Linked DNA regions of Homo sapiens. The protein of the gene in region 3 interacts with the protein of the main gene of each other region in a pairwise test. Each region holds a gene or a part of one and is shown on either strand. Other genes may lie near its edges. The genes, in order: ASB9, TRIM55 and CKM.

Region 1 (6,952 bases), on a different chromosome or scaffold from region 3:
CACACAGAGCTCTTCCCTCCCTTGATATTCCCACATTTTCCCACACCTTTTTCCTCCATAAACCCCTTCACTCAGCCCAAAAAGTTGGAACGGTCTTTCAAAGGCAGGCCATTCTCCAACTGGTAATGTGTCCGGAGTTGGTTCCTTCCAGTGGGTTCTTGGTCTTGCTGACTTCAAGAATGAAACCATGGACCTTTGTGGTGAGTGTTACAGCTCTTAAAGGTGGCACAGACCCAAAGAGTGAGCAGCAGCAAGATTTATTCTGGAGAGTGAAAGAACAAAGCTTCCACAGCATGGAAGGAGACCCGAGCAGGTTGCTGCTGCTGGCTGGGGGGGTGGCCAGCTTTTATTCCCTTATTTGTCCCCGCCCACATCCTGCAGATTGGTCCATTTTACAGAGCGCTGATTGGTCCATTTTACAGAGTGCTGATTGGTGCATTTACAATCCTTTAGCTAGACACAGAGCACCGATTGGTGCGTTTTTACAGAGTGCTAATTGGTGCATTTACAATCCTTTGGACACAGAGCGCTGATTGGCGTGTTTTTAAGTGCTGATTGGTGCATTTACAATCCTTTAGCTAGACACAGAGTGCTGATTGGTGCATTTTTACAGAGTACTGATTGGTGCGCTTACAATCCTTTAGCTAGACACAGAGCACTGATTGGTGCGTTTTTACAGAGTGCTGATTGGTGCGTTTACAATCCTTTAGCTAGACACAGAGCGCTATTGGTGGGTTTTTATGGAGTGCTGATTGGTCCTTTTACAATTCTTTAGCTAGACACAAAAGTTCTCCAAGTCCCCACTCCACCCAGGAATTCCAGCTGGCTTCATCTCTCAGCAGCATTTAGATAAAGTTGATTTCCTTTCACCATACCTCTCGCTTCTTAAGTTTTCAGCCTCTTAGCAGCTGGACTTGAGCCGGCTACATTGGGGAGGAAAGAGTCTCCTAAACCATACCTGAGGTGTGCCTTGGACATCTAAGTGAGGGGTGGGGCAGAGGCCCTGGCTAGTGTGAACACTGCTCCTGGTGAGGAATGACTGTGGCCTTATCATCTGCTGCAGGCAACGATCATTCTGTTTTCTAACCTAACCTGTGCCAATTTCACTGAACATCCAGACACACACACTGACACACACCAAGGCTGACTAGAAGTTGGTAAGATTGCTTTTCTCTTATGGCTGTTGGTAAGCCAACCAATTTCTCCATAATCAAAGCTCATACACATGTGATTCAACTTTATCCTCATACAAATCCACAAATGCATGAACTCCCCTTGTAAAGAACTGTTGTTAAACAGTTTAAAAATTCATCTCCAATCCTCCTATTCACTGGTGTTGATCAACATCATAAATAAAATGAGAAGATTAAAGGCTGATGAATTAATTCCCTCCCAGGTACTAGGGAAACAACCTGGAAATCTTCTTTATTGTCATTTTGGAACTTAATTTTGAATATGGAAAAGGCTTATCTACTTGGAATTTAATTAAAAGTAAATAAAGAAGCTGTAGTACAAAGATTTTACTGGGAAGGAAAGGAAATAGTATCCAGTTTCCCCATTGTGCCCTTCTGTTCAACTCCTCATCCAGTCTGTGTTGGGAATCAATTCCTCACTCTCTGCCAAACAAATGTATCATTCTTCAGATCTTTCCTGATGGAGTGGTAAAGAATTTGTATGCTTATGGCCTTCTCAGTTAATTCTGCAAATAGAGATAGAGGGAAGTTTAGTAGTGTTTATCCAAATTTTAAATGAGCAGCCTCTTTTCAAAAAGTGCAATTTGTATTGAGATCATTACAGATTCACATGCAGTTGTAAGAAATCACATAGAGATCTCCAGTGCACTTTGCCCAGTTTCCCTCAATGGTGACTTTTTGCAAAACTATAGTACAATATTGTAACTGGGAAATCAACATTCATACAATCTACTGATCTTATTCAATTCCCCGGTTTTACTTGTACTCATTCCTGTGTGTGTCTTCAGTTTTATACAATTTATTACATGTGCATAAGTATGCCTTTGACTTAGCATTTCCACTCTTAGGAATCTCTCCTCTAGAAATATTTGCCTATGTGCACAAAGCCACATGTACAAAAATATGAACTTTAGTCCTTTCATAGTACTAACAGAAATAATGACATTCTGCTTGCATCATTAGGAGCATAATTAAATACTTCTGGCACAATATGGAATGCTATGCAACAGTGAATAAAGACAGGAGCATACCTATAAAAGCTGATATGGAAAGCTCTCACAGACAAAATAAGTGTAAAAAGCATAGAATAATAGAATAATATAGGGGCCGGGTGCGGTGGCTCACGCCTGTAATCCTAGCACTTTGGGAGGCCAAGGAAGGGGGATCACGTGAGATCAGGAGTTTGAGGCCAGCCTGGCCAACATGGTGAAACCCTGTTTCTACTAAAAATACTAAAATTAGCTGGGCACAGTGGTGCGCTCCTGTAATCCCAGGTACTCAGGAGGCTGAGGCAGGAGAATTGCTTGAGCTCAGGAGGTGAAAGTTGCAGTGAGCCGATATGACACCATGGCACTCGAGTCCAGGTGACAAAGTGAGACCCTGTCTCAAAAAAAAAAGAATAATATAGGTACATTTATGTGGAAAATGTAAATTGATAAATGTGCATACATGTGTATGCATATAAATGCCTTTAAAAACGTGAATTACACCCCTCAAACTGTTAATAACAGCCACCAAATGTTTTAACTGAGACTCCGTAAATCTAAAACATCTAGGCCTCATCTTTGGCATTAAGACAAATCTGCAATCACTTCACAGCCAGTCTATGCTTGAGACTTAACTCAGAGCCTTCCCCCATGGGGATGAAAAATCCTCTTCTACCTGGAAGAGAGGAATGGTGGGAGTCTAGAGGTGCCTGTCAGCCTGAAGTAGCACCCAGGGGTGTGAGGCAACTGGGTTTATCTGAAAAGACATGGACACAGTACATCCAAATTTTTTTTTTTTTGAGGTGGAGTCTCGCACTGTCGCCTGGGCTAGAGTGCAGTGGCATGATCTCGGCTCACTGCAACCTCTGCCTCCTGGGTTCAAGCGATTCTCCTGCCTCAGCATCCCGAGTAGCTGGGATTACAGGCGCCTGCCACCAGGCCCAGCTAATTTTTTTGTATTTTTAGTAGAGACGGGGTTTCACTATGTTAGTCAGGCTGGTCTCAAACTCCTGACCTCGTGATCCGCCCGCCTTGGCCTCCCAAAGTGCCGGGATTACAGGCATGAGCCACCGCGCCCGGCCCCTAATGTTTTGTATAAGCAAAAACAGCAAAACGTTAACAAAATAAATTTTAGTAATTCACAATGAAAAGATAGCAGGTCTCTTCCACATCTCAGGCCACCTAGCAATCCATTTTTCCAATTGCAACCGTTCATTATTTATTTAGAAGTTAAAATGAGTGGAGGAGGGGTGAGGTAGGACATTTAGTGAAATTCTTGCAGCTGAAAGGAACAAATGGTTCTTTCCAAAGGTACATTTTTTGTAACATATAGACACATTTCCCATAAGAAACTCCCAGCACAATTGAAAGCACATGTACAGATGGCCAGGGCGTGCTGTGCATGTTACTGTGCAAGCAATTCAGCAGGGCTGCTGCAAAACCAGCTTTCTCAGCTCTGGGTGCTCGGGCTTGTCTCCATAACAAGCTACCATGTAACAAACGGATCTCAGCAGGGTGAACAACAGTTGCAGAAAGTGAGCTGTTTCCTTCACCCCCACCCTGCTCCCTTCACTCTCAAAAGTTACAAACTGAGTTTCCTTCCTGATAAACTCCAAGGCTTCCTCACTGATTGGTCTCAGTTTGGGAAAGGACGTGACATCAGCAACTTCGCAGACTTAGGGCTGGAGGGTTCTTGTGGCCTCTGGCGGGCCTCCAGCCAGTTAGGTAAAACGTGTGTGTGTGTGTGTGTGTGTGTGTGTGTACACGAGCGCATGCCTCTCTCTGATCACAGGTAGCACTCAGATTACCCTGCCTGCTCTGTGCTTTGCTGCAGACCATTTGACCAGAACGTGTGCAGCTCAGCCAGCCACAGAACTGGAATTTTTCAGGAGCAGGGGGAGCATGGAGTTTGGACTTTGCTGAGCAACTGAAGTGGAGCGCAGAGCTTGCTCGCTTAGGAGAGAGCATCATGGATGGCAAACAAGGGGGCATGGATGGGAGCAAGCCCGCGGGGCCAAGGGACTTTCCTGGCATCAGGCTTCTTTCAAACCCATTGATGGGCGGTGAGTCATAGGGGCAGTGGAATCAGCCCTGGGGAGGTTGGCTAATGTGCTTAGGAGAGGAGGGTTGGGCAGTTTCAGTGGCTCTGTGTGAGGTGTCCATGGGGCTGTTACTGGGCAGATGTCCACAGCTCACTGGTATATATTCTTTACACAGCTGTTCAAAAATGTGTATACTTCTTTCTGCAGAATCCTACAGACAAGACAAATTCAATTGTCACAAATTATTCTCCAGTGAAAATTTCAGCTCCCAGGAATCATTCTTTGTGGGTCAAATGCATTATTTATTAAATTGGAGGTTTGAAAGTTACTTATAAATAGGAAAATTTTTAATGCTAAAACTTTTTAATTTGTAAGTCTTAGGTGTTTGGCATTTAGGTGGGGCAGGGTTTATAAAGATGTTCAAACATTGAGCACTGATTGAGTCACTTTCAAAAGAGACAAAAGAGACTTTGTTTTACTTAAAACATTGGAGAATCATCTTACAGGTATTGTTCTCATCTGTCAAGTGGTGTCTGTGCTAATGTACAGAATCCCACAAATACACACTTCGGTGAGCATTCAGCAGGTGCCTGTTGGCTGAAAGGATTCTGAAAAATGGGTTTAGGCATTTGCACACAGGTTCTTATAAATAATAGTATATTGGTTAGTAATATACTGGTTAACTCTCCAGCCCCAAGTCTGCAAACTTGCTGATGTCACGTCCTTTCCCAAACTGAGACCAATCAGTGAGGAAACCTTGGAGTTTATCGGGAAGGAAACTCAAAGTTCGTAACTTTCGGAGAGCAAAGGGAGCAGCAGGGTGAGGGTGAAGGCAACAGCTCACTTTCTGCAACTGTTGTTCACCCTGTTGAGATCCTTGGGGGCTTGTGACGGAGACAAGCCCCAGCACCCAGAGCTGGGAAAGCTGGTGTTGCAGCAGCCCTGCTGAATTGCTGTATTTATTATTTATTAATTTTTTTTTCTTTTTGAGACGGAGTCTTGCTCTGTGGCCCAGGCTGGAGTGCAGTGGCGCGATCTCGACTCACTGCAACCTCCGCCTCCCGGGTTCAGGCCTGTATATATAGGCGGGGCACGGTGGTTTACGCCTGTAATCCCAGTACTTTCGGAGGCCGAGGCGGGCAGATCACGATGTCAGGATACCATCCTGGCCAACATGATGAAATTCCGTCGCTACCTAAAATACAAAAATTAGCTGGGTGTGATGGCACGTGCCTGTAATCCCAGCTACTCGGGAGGCTGAGGCAGGAGAATCACTTGAACCCGGGAGGCGGAGGTTGCAGTGCACCTAGATCTCGCCACAGCACTCCAGCCTGGCGACAGAGTGAGACTCCGTATCAAAGAAAAAAGAAAAAAATATATACCTGGTATACTGTCCACAGCACCTGTTGATCAAAGGGGCAATAAACAGGGACCCTGAAGTCAGGGTGTTTTGTTTTGTTTTGTTTTTTTGAGACGGAGTCTCATTCTGTCGCCTGGGCTGGAGTGCAATGGCGAGATCTCCGCTCACTGCAACCTCTGCCTCCCGGGTTCAAGAGATTCTCCTGCCTCAGCCTCCCGAGTAGCTGGGATTATAAGCGCCCGCCACCACACCCGGCTAATTTTTGTATTTTTAGTAGAGACGGGGTTTCACCACGTTGGCCAGGCTGGTCTAGAACTCCTGACCTCAGGTGATCTGCCCGCCTGGGCCTCCCAAAGTGCTGGGATTACAGGTGTGAGCCACCACGCCCGGCCGTCAGTCAGGGTTTATTAATCTACTATACAGGTACCAAAAAGGTAAAAATGGAAGAAATAAAACACAAAACGTCTTCCCTTTGACTGAGTAGACTAGCCTGCTCATTCATTCATTCATTTATCCAATTTCACTTATAAAATGAGCAGAGTACTCAATGGTGAGTGGGATTTAGATCCACAAAGGCAGAACTGGATTAATCAGCAGATGTATTGAGCATGAGTTTGGAGAACTAGGAAAGCAAGAGTGGCATCAAAAATCACTTTTCACAAAGAATTTCTTTTTTTTTTTTTTTTTTTGTTTTTTTTGAAGTGGAGTTTCACTCTGTCACCCAGGCTGGAATGCAGTGGAGCAATCTCAGCTCACTGCAAACTCCACCTTCCCGTGTTCAAGCGACTTTCCTGCCTCAGCCTCCTGAGTAGCTGGGATTACAGGCGTCCGCCACCACACCCAGCTGATTTTTGTATTTTTAGTAGAGACGGGGTTTCACCATGTTAGCCAGGATGGTCTCAATCTCCTGACCTCGTGATCCGCCCGCCTTGGCCTCCCAAAGTGCTGGGATTACAGGCGTGAGCCACCACGCCCGGCCACTTTTTACAAGGAATTATATATATAATTATATATATATATATATTTTTTTTTTAGATGGAGTCTCGCTCTGTTACCAGGCTGGAGTGCAGTGGCACCATCTCGGCTCACTGCAACCTCGGCCTCCTGGGTTCAAGCAATTCTGCCTCAGGAGGGAGAGGCAGGGACTAGGTGGGACTACAGGCACACGCCTGGCTAATTTTTTGGGGTGTTTTTTTTTTGTATTTTAGTAGAGACGGGGTTTCACCATGTTGCCCCAGGCTGGTCTCCAACTCCTGAGCTCAGGGAAGTCTGCCCGCCTCGGCCTCCCAAAGTGCTAGGATTACAGGTGTGAGCCACTGTGCCCGGCCGATAAATATATTTTTAAAACAGCAAACCAATCATTATGGGAAA
Region 2 (7,110 bases), on a different chromosome or scaffold from region 3:
CTTACCCTGAGGCAGCTGCTGTGTCCAGCTCAAGTATCAGCCAGAGCAGCTGCTGAGTTAATCCACCAAATAGAGATCCTGTAGAAGCCCAAGGAAACTGGGGCCTTTGATGAGTTCAAATTCACCACAAGGCTGAATCCAAACCTTGCTTTTTCTTAGAGAATGCCCATGGGGGAGCTACAGCACTCTTCTGATCTAACAAAAAGTAGTGGTCCTGTCCATCACTCGTAGAGGAAGCTGATGTTTGGTTTTTGCCATGACCGGTTTTTTTTGCCTGTGTACTTGGGTGAAGAGAGAAGGTAAGGTATGTGATAAAGCAGAAATTGTTCAGCACCAGAAACCACAGGCAGTAAAATCGAGGGCATGTTTCACTGTGTACATGGATGTAAGGAAAGCACCAGGAAATAGAGCATTTGCTTCTAAAAGGTTTGCAGTTCAGCTGTTGTGGGCTGAATGTAGTTTACAGATCAGCAAGTGAGCCTGAGATGCTTCTGAGTTTTAAAGGCAGCATTACTCTGACACGGGACCACCTAGTAAAGAGAGATAAGACCACCACTGAATCAAAGAGAACTCTTACCACATCCTAAATACTCAAGGTAAGCCTAGTGATGAAATGTGAAATTCTAGCACTCTAACCTTGAACTGGACAAATATGAATCTGGTAAACTGGGTTCTGAAGTGGTGAAGGTGAATCAGACCTGCAAAATATTCTCAGAGGCCGGGAATTTGCTACTATAGTGAGGTCTCTATCAACCTGCCCATATCCCATTTCTGGGATCAAAGAGTAGTACTCCATCATGAACAGGTGTCCTTCTCTATGTGAAAGGCCCTTCCTCAAACACCAAGAACTATACAGTAAGGTTTTTTGCAATACTGGATGTCAACGCCCTCCCCACACCTGCTCCACCTGCCCCACCCTCCTCTCCCTAGGCAGGCACGTGGATGTCAGCATACATGACATGGGCTCAGTGGATCACAGCCTTGAAGCATGACACTCCCTCTGCAGCCTCAGAGAAGCAATACAAGACATATATGTAGTGACAAAGCCCTAAACCCGAATTCTCAGAATGTAAACAGAACCCTTCAGACAATTATTCAGATCCACAATTAGGTCCTGGTTCCAATAAAGCATGGAGTTTTCTCTCTCACCATTCACCCCTCTGAGTCCATGGCCAATACATCCTCCCACTCCTTTTTACCACAGATAATGTCTGAAGGAGTTGGGCAGCTGAGCAGACTGTAAGGACACTCAGGACACTCTAGGGTGCACAGGTTTCCAGCTGACTATTGGACATTGTGGGCAGGTCCTGCTCACACACAGTTCCAGACACGGCAGAGACCAATGGAGACGCCACCGCCATTGCTGAGCAGATGGCTAATGAGGCAGAAAGTCTATGAAGGGAGCTTCCAGAAGAGTCAGTGTCAACCCAGGGAAAAGTCAGTGAGCCAGAAATAGCCGAGGCTTTTCAGCACCATTGACCCTGAACTGCCTTTGAGCTACAGGAACAAGGAGTTGGGTCTCAGGCCCAGCAGGGTCATTTACACAAAAGTACATGGAAGTTGGAATCTTTAAATATTATTAATTAAACTGAGAACTTTCAAAAGGGTATTAAAGGATTATGATGTCAGTCCTCAAGCAAACCTCATAACAGCAATCAAGCAAAGGCTTGGCTATGAGAACGGTGACTCGGAAATAATATAAATGGACTGCTTGATGACTTTATGGCTTAGTTCTTGGTTCTAATTCCTGATAGCTGGTAAGTGCACATTGATCCTCTGGCTGTTAATTCATTCAGGTCTCACGTGGCTGCAATCCCCCAGATATTTCTTCAGTCAGGGCATCTTTCTCTCAGGGACCTCCTCTCCCAGGAGAAACTCTGTAGAGTCTGAGGGTTCAAAGAGAACCCACCTGCTCACCTGCATAGGAACTGCCTAGAACATCATCCCACGAGGAGTCACTTGGCCACCTCCTGGGCATCTCTGGTGTAAGCAGATGAAATGCTTGTACTTAATCTATGGAAACCTGCATTTTCCTGCAGGAGTCCTTTGCCGCTCCTTTCTCTACGAGCAGTAAGTCCTCACCGCATTATGGACACTTGAAACTGGCCTCCCCTAATGACCATTCTGGAGGGTTTGCTCCTCCTGGATTACTGAATAATTGCCCATGGAGTTACTGTTCTCAGTCAAGGTTCCCCTCCATGCAGGAATAGATAATGGAGCAATTCTCCTCAGAAAGAGGTCTTGAGGCGATTGCATTGTGTGAGCTTGAGGCCTCCAGTATAATCTGAGAACAATGTTCTTTTGGGAGGACTGAGCCTCAAGATTTGGGGAGAAATTAATCTCTGGGCCTATAGAAGAGGAACATTATGGAAGAAACTATGTGAGATGTTAGTCAAGGGAAAAGAAAATATTTCCTACCCATTAAAGTAAAAATCAAGCACTGAATCTGACTCCAGATGTAGTGAAGAATAAGAAAAGCCAAAAGCGCTAGGCAGATTACTAACTCCTGTGAGAAAACAAGAAGAAAGCTTCACTGATATTATCACAAATAATTATTTTCAACATTATTTCAATGGACTTTTCATTTTGGCTTGAGCCCTACTACGTGCTCTTCATGGGGTAGTGCACTACTGTTTTCAGAAAACAGCCCCTCCGCACACAGCTTCTACTACCATGTATAAGAATTGCCACACATTTTCTAGAAATAATCAGTCTACTGCATCTTTTACCTAAAAACCACCTCATAAGATTTCTTCCCACCAAACATTTATTTTTGTCATTTTATCTGTGAAAATAAACATCCAACCCCAAAGCATGTTACTTTTAATTTTCCAAAATCATTTCCTTTTACTACCTCATGGAATTGAAGTCTCTTGGGCAGATACAATCAAAATAATAAGTCATTGTCTGATTTTTGAGAACATGTTGTTTGTGGTTCATAATCAATCACCTGATGACCCAGGAGCATGGAACTGGAGAGTGCTTTCTGGCAGCTTCTTGCCTGGGCAACACTCACACCCTACACATCATTTAAGAATGCTCATGAGTATGGAGTCACCATGAACATTCTTCCTTGTGAAGAAATTGTAAAAGATTTCTTCTGTGGACTCTTCAAGACATGCAAACATCTAACCAAGTGTTAGGGGGAAGACATGGACTTCAAACTCATCATATAAAGAAAGAGTCTCTTGAAAAAAATCTCTGTGGAGGAGCACCTGTGCTTTTCCACTCCCAGGAGTACATGCTTAGGAAGCACAGGTTTAATCAAGCCAAGACTGTCTCTGTCTAGCTGTAGCCAGCACACTCCAAGAATCCATGAATCAGAGGTTATTCTCCAGAACAGACTTAAAACTCAAGTGTGCTCCTTGGGGGTTGCTGGGAATGACACAAAAGCAGGGGATTAGTCTTTAGAAGCCCAAGGAGGACACAGGGAAGGCTGAGCAAGGGCAAGTGGCCGTTGGTAAGGAGGACTGGGGACACAGCCAGTCACTGCAGATGAAGCAGCGCTCAGTAGCATGCCTAAGGGCCAGGCTCACTTGCACCCCTCCCCTGGGAAGCCAGGTGTGAGGTCACCATGCACCAGGAGAGTGAACTCAAATTTGTTTTGTTTTATGTTTTCTTTTATATAGAGCTCAAAACAAGCCAACATTGGGGGATGAATTGTTTCTGTACTTTTCCCCTGGCTGAGGTTTCTCTCTGCCCCTTTGAAAACCCTTTTTCTTCTTGCTGTGGCCTGTTCCAGTGGGACCCTAGGGGGCGCGGGAAAGCATAGACACAAGTGCATCATCACTAACCTGAGAAGTAGCTGCAGGTGCACTAGTTTCCTTACCACTCACAGCTGCCCTCTCACTCGCTGCGGCTGCTGCCACTTCTGCCTTCCGTACATTCGAATCCTCAGAACCTGGAGGCCCTATTTGCCCCAGACCTTCGCTCCCTGGGGTGCAAGGTGGGTTGGTGGTGGCTTTCCGGGTTTGGCCTTTATACCAACTAGGGTAAAACAAGGGATCCGCAGTTTCTGCTGCTGCAGGGACTGGAGTTTCAGACTCTGTGGTCTGCTCAGAGCCAGTGGGTACAACCTCCCCCTTAATCAGGACAGATAAATTCAAAAGTAAAGAAAAAAAAAAAGAAGAAGAAGAAGAAAAAGCAGTTGATTTTAGTTCCCTTTGGGTTTGAACACTGTGCGCTCCCTGCATGCAGTGCCTTGGTGGCCGTTTTAGTTCATCCCACCCTCCAGAAGCGCTAAGGGCAGAATGGTGACTACAGTGCCCCTCTGTCCAGCATCTGGATGGGTGCCCTCTTCTTTTCTGAGCTTGTCTTTCACTCACTGGGAGCCCAGGCAGGCAGAGAGCAGAAACCTCAGTGAATGTTGGTTATAAAATATCAGATATGGGAAAAGGGTCAAACTATTGACTAGAATAATTTGTTGGCTTTATACGTGAGTCCCAAAAACCTCATTATAAAAAACAAAAATTAATCTTATTGATCAAATCCAACCCTCACTTAGTTACTATACCTCTTTCAATTTTAATACAACTGAAATGCTCAGAATTTAAAAATTCTAGACTATAAATGGCATTTTAGCCTGGTTTCCTGTGGAGACAGAGCATAGAAATACAGTTCCATCTCTGAGATCCCCCTCTGGAGTTTTGTTTCAATCCACTTCAAAAGCAGTTGCAGAAGCAGGACTCCTCTCTGATGAGTCTGCACTGCCTGCAAACTCAAAAGGTTGGGATCCTGTCTGCTGAAGTATCATGGAGTCTGCACAAAGGCTTGAAAACTGGACGGTGACGTATTAGAAACATGAGGTCAACCAATTAGGTGCAGCATCTGGGGTGAGCTTATTTCTTAAGATATGTTTTAAACAATTCTGTCAACACACAATCTCATCAAATGACAAATCCATAGAAAACCAGGCTTCATTGTTTGCTCACTGAAGGAAAAATACATAAGTTGTATTTCAGGGTAAGCAACAGGAACATAAACTAGTGTAGTTTCTCTATTTACCCCCTCAATTATCTACAGAAAATTCAAAGTTCTGAAAGTATAATCACTTTTATTTCTTACTCTGTATGCTATTTATTTCTCATCCTATACCCTACATATACATTCACTAAGTAACAAAGAGCAGACCCAGTCCCCATGATATCAGCTCTCTATGAATTAACATGACACACAGACATGGACACACACACACACACACACACACACACACACACACACACACAATTTCCAGACAAAGATTGCCTTTGATTTGAGGGCATTACTGGTGGGAAAGTTGTATTAAATTTTGTTAACTAACAATAACAACAAAGAACCTGTTGAATCACCTAGAGGACTTTTCTCCCCGACATGAGGACTGTCCTGAAATCTTTCGTCTACCATATACGAATGTCTGGCATATAGTTATCTTTTTCTTAAGGCAGAATAGGGTAAATTGTTTAGGCTATTCCATAAGGAGACACGCCCATGTGCCCTGTAGAAAGAGACTCAGGAGGGGTTACCTGTGTCACAGGGGCATCCGCAGCAGGTGGCAGGGCTGGAGGTGGCTCTGGAGAGGAAACTGGAAGTGCCCCAGGGGCAGCCTGCAGCTCCACCTGAGAGAGCTCTGAAGCTTTTTCTGGGTTTTCATCTTCTCCTGGAAACTCTGTTTGAACATTTTCTACCTCTTCCACTTCTACTGCTTCTCCTCCCACTTCTCCTTCTCCTTCTTTTTCTCCTTCTCCGCCTTCTTCTTCTTCTTCATCTTCATCTTCTGGTAAGGTAAGGTATCTTGTAAATTGTTATAACTATCTCTGCAGCCATGGACACAGTTAATGGCCAGTGCTTATAGCCCTAGTTAAGGTCAAGGCTGGGGAGTTTTTCTCTGACAGACACTTGACAATGGTCCAAGTGTGCCGTGCCAGGGCTTTGTGCTTCTAGTGGAATGTGGACTGGACAAATGTGAAGGAACCATCCCTATCCTCCTTGTTCTCCTCCCCAGTACAAAGTCTTCACCTCTGCTGTGCATAATGCCCTTCACCTTCCAGAGCCCGTCCACATTTTTATTACAGTCTGCCACATCTGCAAGCTCCTGGAGGCCTGGGATTGTCACTTATTTATCTCTGTCAGATTAAATGGAAGTGCAACTGTCTTCCCTGTCTCAGAAAACATACAAAGCCCTTTTGTCATTTTAGCTTTCTACCTCTGTTGTTCAGTGAATACTGACTTTTGCCATAATTAATGTCACGACTCTTTTATTTATTTATTTATTTATTTATTTATTTATTTATTTATTTATTATTTTTTGAGACAGAGTCTCACTCTGTCACCCAGGCTGGAGTGCAGTGGTGCAATCTCAGCTCACTGGAACCTCCGCTTCCTGGGTTCAAGTGATTCTCCTGCCTCTGCCTCTGGAGTAGCTGGGATTACAGGCGTACGCCACCACGCCCGGCTAATTTTTTTGTATTTTTAGTAGAGATGGGGTTTCACCATGTTGGCCAGGCTGGTCTCAAACTCCTGGCCTTAAGTGATCCACCCGCCTTGGCCTCCCAAAGTGCTGGAATGCCGTGACTCTTTTCCTGACCCACTGATCTTAATATTCCCTCAGGCGACATTAAGGACAGGCAATATTAAGCGATTTTTTTAAAAAGATACATCCTAAAGATTTGCCTTTAAAATTTTGTCTGTGGATGTTGGTGCAGCCTCATAGCATTACTAGTGGTCTAGTGGTCTAGCTGAGGGGTGTGATCATCTAGGTGGGCTAGCATGAGTCAAAGTGATCAAAGTTTTGGTCAGCTCCAAGATTGTTTTTCACTTTTCAATTATTTAATCAGGATAAAATTTCAGAAATGGGACTTCTGGGCCAAAAGGTAGGAATGTGGTTATAGCTCAGGGAGTATAACTAGTCACACAGACCCAGGTTTATGTTCAGGTTGTGACTTATTCTATGAGTTGTTACTATTCTTGTCCTCTAAATTTTGATTAAGTTGATGTGCTGCAATATCTAACCCACATGCCTCCTATGTATTGTTTTTATCTCATCTTTAACCTTGCTCCTGCTGACACTTTACATTATTTTGGCTAACACTGTGCATAGGATTGAAGTTGAGATATCATCATTATCAATTATGA
Region 3 (7,110 bases):
TGGTGGCACACGCCTGTAATCCCAGCTACTCAAGAGGCTGAGGCACGAGAAACACTTGAACCCAAGAGGTGGAGGTTGCAGTGAGCTGAGATTTTGCCACTGCACTCCAGCCTGGGTGACAGAGTGAGATTCTGTCTAAAAAAAAAAAAAAGAAAAAAAATTGTGTGTTTATTTGTATATTCATGTATAAAATATGTGTATAATGAATTTGTGTTTGTGCATATGTACAATAAATCTATAATATTTATATATCTTATACATATTCATATAATATACAGACATACCTCGTTTTATTGCATTTTGCAGATACTGTGTTTTTTACAAATTGGAGGTTTGTGGCAACTCTTTGTCCAGCAGGTCTATTGGAGCCATTTTTCCTACAGCATGTGCCACTTCGTGTCTCTGTGTCACATGTGGGTAATTCTCACAGTACTGCAGACTTTCTCATTATTACTATATCTGTCATGGCGATCCGTGATCAGTGATCTCTGATGTTACTGTTTTAATTTTGGGGGGTGCCACCGACCTTGCCCATATAAAAGGGTGAACTTAATGGATAAATGTGTGTGCTCGGACTGCCCCACTGACCAGCCATTCCCTCATCTCTCCCCATCTCCTTGAGCCTCCGTATTCCCTGAGACACATGATTTTGAAATCAGGCCAATTCAGTTCATAACCTTACAATGGCCTCGAGGTGTTCAAGTGAAAGGAAGAGTCAACATTTTTCACTTTAAATAAAAAGCTTCATAGGCCAGGTGCGGTGGCTCACGCCTGTAATCCTAGTGGTTTGGGAGGCTGAGGCAGGCAGATCACCTGAGATCAGGAGTTTGAGACCAGCCTGGCCAAGATGGCGAAACCCCGATTCTACTAAAAATACAAAAATTAGCCAGGCGTGGTGGCGCATGCCGGTGATCTCAGCTACTTGGGTGGCTGAGACACGAGAATTGCTTGAACCACGAGGTGGAGGTAACAGTAAGCCAAGATTGCACCACTGCACTCCAGCCTGGGCGACAAGAGTGTGGCTCCATCTCAAAAAAGAGATTCTTTTCAAACTATTACTGCTGGCCAGGCACTGTGGCTCACACCTGTAATGCCAGCACTTTGGGAGACCAACATGGGAGGATCACTTAAGCCCAGGAGTTGGAGGTTATGGTAAGTCATGATTGCACCACTGCATTCCAGCTGGGCAACAGAACAAGACCCTGTCTTGAAAAGAGAGAGAGAAAGAGAAGGAAGGAAGGAAGGGAGGAAGGGAGGGAGGAAAGAAGGAAGGAAGGAAGGACGGAGAAGAAAAGGGAAGGGAAGGGAAGGAAGGGAGGGAGGGAAGGAAGGGAAGGAAGGGAGGAAGAAAAGAAAGGAAAGGAAGGAAGGAAGGAAGGAAGGAATTGCCGCAGCCATCTCAACCTTGAACGACAACCGCCCTGATCAGTCAGCAGCCCATCAACATCAAGGCAAGGCCCTACACAACAGAAAGGTTCCAACTTGCTGAGTCCTCAAATGATCACAACATTTTTAGCAGGATTTTAAAATTAAGGTATGTACTTTTTTTTTTCTAGACATAATGCTATTGTGCACTTAACAGACTACAGTATAGGATAAACATAACTTTTTTTTTTGAGATGGAGTCACACTCTGTCCCCCAGGCTGGAGTGCAGTGGCGTGATCTCAGCTCACTGCAACCTCTGCCTCCCAGGTTCAAGCGATTCTCCTGCCTCAGTCTCCCAAGTCGCTGGGATTACAGGTGTGTGCCACCAGACCCAGCTGATTTTTGTATTTTTAGTAGAGATGGGGTTTTACCATGTTGGCCAGGCTGGTCTCAAACTCCTGACCTCAAATGATCCACCTGCCTCAGCTTCCCAAAATGCTGGGATTACGGTGTGAGCCACTGTGCCTGGCCTCTTTTTATTTGTTTTTGAGGCAGGTTCTCACTCTGTCACCCTGGCTGGAGTGCAGTGGCACAATCACGATTCACTGCAGCCTCAACCTCCCGGGCTCAAGTGATCCTCCCACCTCAGTCTCCTGAGTAGCTGGGATGACAGGTGTGTGCCACCACTCCTGGCTCATTTTTGTCTTTTTTGTAGAGACAGGGTCTTGCTGTATTGCCCAGTCTGGTCTTGAACTCCTGGGCTCAAGCGACCCTCCCTCCTAGGCCTCCCGCACTGCTGTGGGAGCCACTGTGCCCGGCCTCAACTCCTCCTATCTGAGGTGGCTCCCCTCGGTCATTCTCCACCACACCCATGTCTTGGCTTCATGGCACTTTTGAATTATCTTGTTCATCTGTGGGTTTCTGTATTTCCTCTTGTCTCCCCACCAGCTGAACACTCTGTGAGAACAGTGAGGGACCCCTATCTCCCCACACAGGGCAAGAACCCCTGGAAATGTGTGCTGGATGAACGGATGGCAGGACGCTGGGGGCAGCCAGGTGTCTGCGTAGGTCTTCTCAGGGGCCGTCGGGTCTGGACAGCATCCCTGAATCTCCAACACAGCAGGTAATGCTGACAGCCCGCGCCATTCCCCAAGCCCCCACGATTTACCAAGCTCTTCCCCTACTTTGAAAAGCGGGGGCCCAAAGAGACCCGAGGACCTGCCCATGGAGGAACAGAGCCAGGGCTGGGTGACCCCAGCAGTGGACGGGGTAGGGGCGCTCACCTTCCACAGAGAGCTTCTCCACCGCCCGGCGCTCGCCACGGGAGCAGTGTGGGGGCAACGTGTAGCCCTTGATGCTGCGGCCAGTGCGGACGCGGCTGCTGAGCACGTAGTTAGGGTCCAGGTCGTCTCCACCCTGGAGAGCGGGTGGGAGATCAGGACCAGGCAGATCCTCCGCCCTCTCCAGCAAGCCCAGGTCTCCCCCAGATGCTCCCCTCAGTCTCCCTGTTGCTTCCTTTGCCTTCTGCATCCTCACTGATTGGGTGTGTGGAGCCTCTCCCCGCCACCCATACCTGGGCTCTGTCTCTCCCTTCTCTGTCTCTCTCCCCTCTCCTATCTCTGTTTTTCTTTATACCTCTCTCTCCCCATCTTCGTATATTTCTTTTCCTTTTTTTTCTTCGAGACAGGGTCTCTCTCTGTCGCCCAGGCTGGAGTGCAGTGGTGCCATCATAGCTCACTGCAACCTCAAACTCCTGGGCTCAAGCAATTCCCCTGCCTCAGCCTCCCAAGTAGCTGGGACTAACAGGTAGGTATATGCCACCATGTTCGGCTAACTTAAAATAAATTTTTTATAAATAGAGACAGGGGCTGGGCGCGGTGGCTCACACCTGTAATCCCAACACTTTGGGAAGCCGAGGTGAGCCAATCACCTGAGGTCAGGAGTTCGAAACCAGCTTGGCCAACATGGTGAAACCCCATTTCTACTAAAAATACAAAAATTAGCTGGGCGTGGTGGTGCGCGCCTGTAATCCCAGCTACTCAGGAGGCTGAGGCACGAGAATCACTTGAACCTGGGGATCAGGGGTTTCCGTGAGCTGAGATCGAGCCACTGCACTCCAACCTGGGTGACAGAGTGAGATTCTGTCTCAAAAAAAAAAAAAAAATAGAGACAGGGTGTCACTATGTTGCCCAGGCTGGTCTCAAACTCCTGGGCTCAAACAGTCCTCCTGCCTCAGCCTCCCAACGTGATGGGATTACAGGCATGAGCCACCATGCCTAGCTAAATTTTTAGGCTTTTTTTTTTCTTTTTTTTGGGCAGAGACGGGTTCTTGCTATGTTGCCCAAGCTGGTCGTGAACTCTCCTGGCTTCACGTGATCCTCACACCTCAGCCTCCATAAGTGCTGGGATTACAGGTATAGCCACTGCACCCAGCCTTTCTGCCCATTTCTGTTTCTCTTCCTGTCTCCCTTTCTCCCACTCTCCTTGTCTGTGTCTGACTGCAACTGCGTGTGTCTCTCTCTCCCTGTCTCTCCTGCCTTCTCTGATGCTCCCTTCTGTCTCCCTCTGTGTCTCTGCCTCTCCCCCCACCCTTTTTTTTTTAGGCAGAGTCTCGCTCTGTCACCCAGGCTGAATAGCTAGGATTATAGGTGAACACCAGCATGCCTAGCTAATTTTTGTATTTTTAATAGAGACTGGGTTTCACCGTGTTGGTCAGGCTGGTCTCGAACTCCTGACCTTATGATCCGCCCACCTCAGCCTCCCAAAGTGTTGGGATTACAAGCGTGAGCCACTGTGCCCGGCTATGCCTCTTCCTTTTCTACATGCTTTTGTGCCTTTCTTCTCCCTCTCCCTCTCCTTTGTCTGTCTGTCTCCTTGGTTGTCTGTGTCTCCTTGGCTGTCTCTGTGTCTCTCTGTCCCTCTCTCTTTCCTTTTTTTATTTTCTGAGATAGAATCTTGCTCTGTCACCCAGGCTGGAGTGCAGTGGCATGATCTCAGCTCACTGCAGCCTCCATCTCCTGGGTTCAAGAGATTTTCCTGCCTCCACCTCCTGAGTAGCTGGGATTACAGGCACGCGCCACCATGCCCAGCTAATTTATTTTATTTATTTATTTATTTATTTTTTGAGACGAGTTTCGCCCTTGTTGCCCAGGCTGGAGTGCAATGGCACGATCTCTGCTCACCACAACCTCTGCCTTCCAGGTTCAAGCGATTCTCCTGCCTCAGCCTCCCACGTAGCTGGGATTACAGGCATGTGCCACCACACCCAGCTAATTCTGTATTTTTAGTAGAGACGGGGTTTCACCATGTTGGTCAGGCTGGTCTCAAACTCTCAATCTAAGGTGATCTGCCCGCCTTGGCCTCCCAAAGTGCTGGGATTACAGGCGTGAGCCACCGCCGTGCCCAGCCCTTTTTTTTTTTTTTAAAGACAGAGTTTTGCCATGTTGGCCAGGCTGGTCTTGAACTCCTGACCTCAAGTGATACGCTCGCCTCAGCCTCCCAATGTCCCTCTCTCTTTCCATCTCTCTGCTTCTCCACACCTCTGTGTCTCTCTCTGTCTCTGTATTTCTCTGTCTCCCCCCATTTCTCCTGTGATCTCTCTCCTCCTCACCCCTCGGCCCTCCCCTCCTGCGCAGACACCGACCTTGAGGTTTTCATGGTTGAGGTCAGTCTTGTGCTTGTCAGTGGGTTTGTAGCCCCCGTGGCGATCCGAGATGATGGGGTCAAAGAGTTCCTTGAAAACTTCGTAGGACTCCTCATCACCAGCCACGCAGCCCACGGTCATGATGAAGGGGTGACCTGGAGGGGTGGGGGTGAGGTCAGAGCTGCTTGTCCCCAGCAAACAGGGCGTGGGCTTGTGGGCTCAGTGGAGCCTGTGTGGACATGTGTGTCGGGATGGGGGCGGGTACATTCAATACCTCTGGGTGGGAATTGAGAATCATAAGGGTTGGGCACAGTGGCTCATGCCTGCAATCCCAGCACTTTGGGAGGGTGAGGCGGGTGAATCTCTTGAGGTCAGGAGTGTGAGACCAGCCTGGCCAACAGGGTGAAACCCCATCTCTGCTAAAAATACAAAAATTAGCTGGGTGTGGGGCACACACCTGTAATCCCAGCTACTCAGGAGGCTGAGGCATGAGAATTGCTTGAACCAAGGGAGTGGAGGTTGCAGTGAGCCAAGATCACACCACTGCACTCCAGCCTGGGTGACAGAGCAAGACTCTGTCTCCAAAGGAAAAAAAAAAAAAGAGAGAACACTGAGGACTGGTGGGAACTGGGAGGGAAGGCTGGGAGAGGTCAAGGTGGCTGGGAGGGGTCAAGGTGGGAGAGAAGAAAGAGTGCTGGGGGCGGGGTCAAAGGAGAAAGGGGAGCTTCAGAGGGTACATGGTGCTAAAAGCATCAGCACCTCGGAAACATTAGCACCCAAAGTCATGACATCTTAGCCTGAAATGTTAGGATCTCAGGCTACCACCGTACCACAGAGGGTCAGGAGGGTAAGAGACTTGAAAGACCCTCTTGTTTCCCAGTGGAAAAACAGGGGCCAGGAGAGAGGGGCTTCTCCCCGGCATCACACAGTGAGCTGGATGTGAGGGGCACTAGAGCCTCCCCTCCACTCCCAGCTCTCTTCGCCTTGCAATGTCCTTTGAGAAACAACCATAACATTAATAACATCCCCTGTCAGATTCTTTTTTTTTTTTTTTGAGACAGGGTCTCACTCTGTGGCTGGAGTACAGTGGCGCGATCTCGGCTTACTGCAACCTGCACCTCCCAGGCTCAAGCGATCCTCCCACCGCAGCCTCCTGAGTAGCTTGGACCACAAGCCCTCATCACCACACTTGGCTAATTTTTTTGTATTTTTTGTAGAGACAGGGTCTTGCTATGTTGCTCAGGCTGGTCTCAAACTCCTGGCCTCAAGTGATCCTCCCACCTGGGCCTCCCAAAGTGCTGGGATTACAGGCATGAGCCACTGCACCTGGCCCCCCTGTCAGAGCTTGAGCACTCACTTGGTGCCAGGTGCCACTCTAAGCACTGCACAGCCATTGACTTGTGTTTTCACAACGTGGGCGCCCATTTTTCAGATGAGGAGACTGAGGTTCAGGAGGTGAACCGACCTCCTTGGGGATCTCACATTATTCTCGTGCATGTTTATTGCGTGGTTTGCTGAGTACCTCGCACTGTCCCAAGCCTTTATGTATATTAATGCATTGATTCCCACAACAGCCCCATTTTACAGATGAGAAAACTGAGGCCCCCCCCCCTTCAAGGGTGGTGGGATTGGGGCATGGCCGGCAGCCTCCAGAGCCCCCATGTAGCCCCTTCAGTGCTCCACTGGGGAGGCTCACCTGGGTTGTCCACTCCTGTCTGGATGACATCGTCTACAGTGAAGCCAGATGGAGTCTCCTTGTCCCGCAGCTTCTTGTAGAGTTCAAGGGTCAGTACCTTGGCCATGTGGTTGTTATGTTTGCTGAGGTCGGGGTACTCCTCCTCAGGCTTGTAATTCAGCTTGAACTTGTTGTGGGTGTTACCGAATGGCATGGTGGCGGTGTAGGAGACCTGATGGGCAGGGCAGGAGGGGAAGATTGAAGATTAGCTGGCATCTTTTTTCTTCTTCTTCTTCTTTTTTTTTTTTTGAGACGGAGTCTCGCTCTGTCACCCAGGCTGGAGTGCAGTGGCACGATCTCGGCTCACTGCAAGCTCCACCTCCTGGGTTCACACCATTCTCCCGCCTCAGCCTCCCGAGTAGCTGG

What was found.
Region 1: the proteins of CKM (region 3) and ASB9 interact in binary tests that used the Homo sapiens proteins (3 or more experiments, as listed by UniProt).
Region 2: the proteins of CKM (region 3) and TRIM55 interact in a two-hybrid assay, tested with the Homo sapiens proteins (one study listed by BioGRID).

Annotation. Positions count from the first base shown.
Region 1 is NC_000023.11:15,267,071-15,274,022, reverse strand, and holds the start of ASB9 (ankyrin repeat and SOCS box protein 9), read left to right. Parts: upstream 1-3,939; 5' UTR 3,940-4,148; coding exon 4,149-4,242; intron 4,243-6,952. UniProt on the Homo sapiens protein: Substrate-recognition component of a cullin-5-RING E3 ubiquitin-protein ligase complex (ECS complex, also named CRL5 complex), which mediates the ubiquitination and subsequent proteasomal degradation of target proteins.
Region 2 is NC_000008.11:66,151,019-66,158,128, reverse strand, and holds part of TRIM55 (tripartite motif-containing protein 55), read right to left. Parts: intron 5,753-7,110; coding exon 5,502-5,752; intron 4,083-5,501; coding exon 3,795-4,082; intron 2,507-3,794; coding exon of another isoform or gene 2,419-2,506; intron 1-2,418. UniProt on the Homo sapiens protein: E3 ubiquitin ligase that plays an important role in regulating cardiac development and contractility, muscle growth, metabolism, and fiber-type differentiation.
Region 3 is NC_000019.10:45,312,816-45,319,925, forward strand, and holds part of CKM (creatine kinase M-type), read right to left. Parts: intron 6,917-7,110; 5' UTR 6,899-6,916; coding exon 6,706-6,898; intron 5,165-6,705; coding exon 5,010-5,164; intron 2,783-5,009; coding exon 2,650-2,782; intron 1-2,649. UniProt on the Homo sapiens protein: Reversibly catalyzes the transfer of phosphate between ATP and various phosphogens (e.g. creatine phosphate).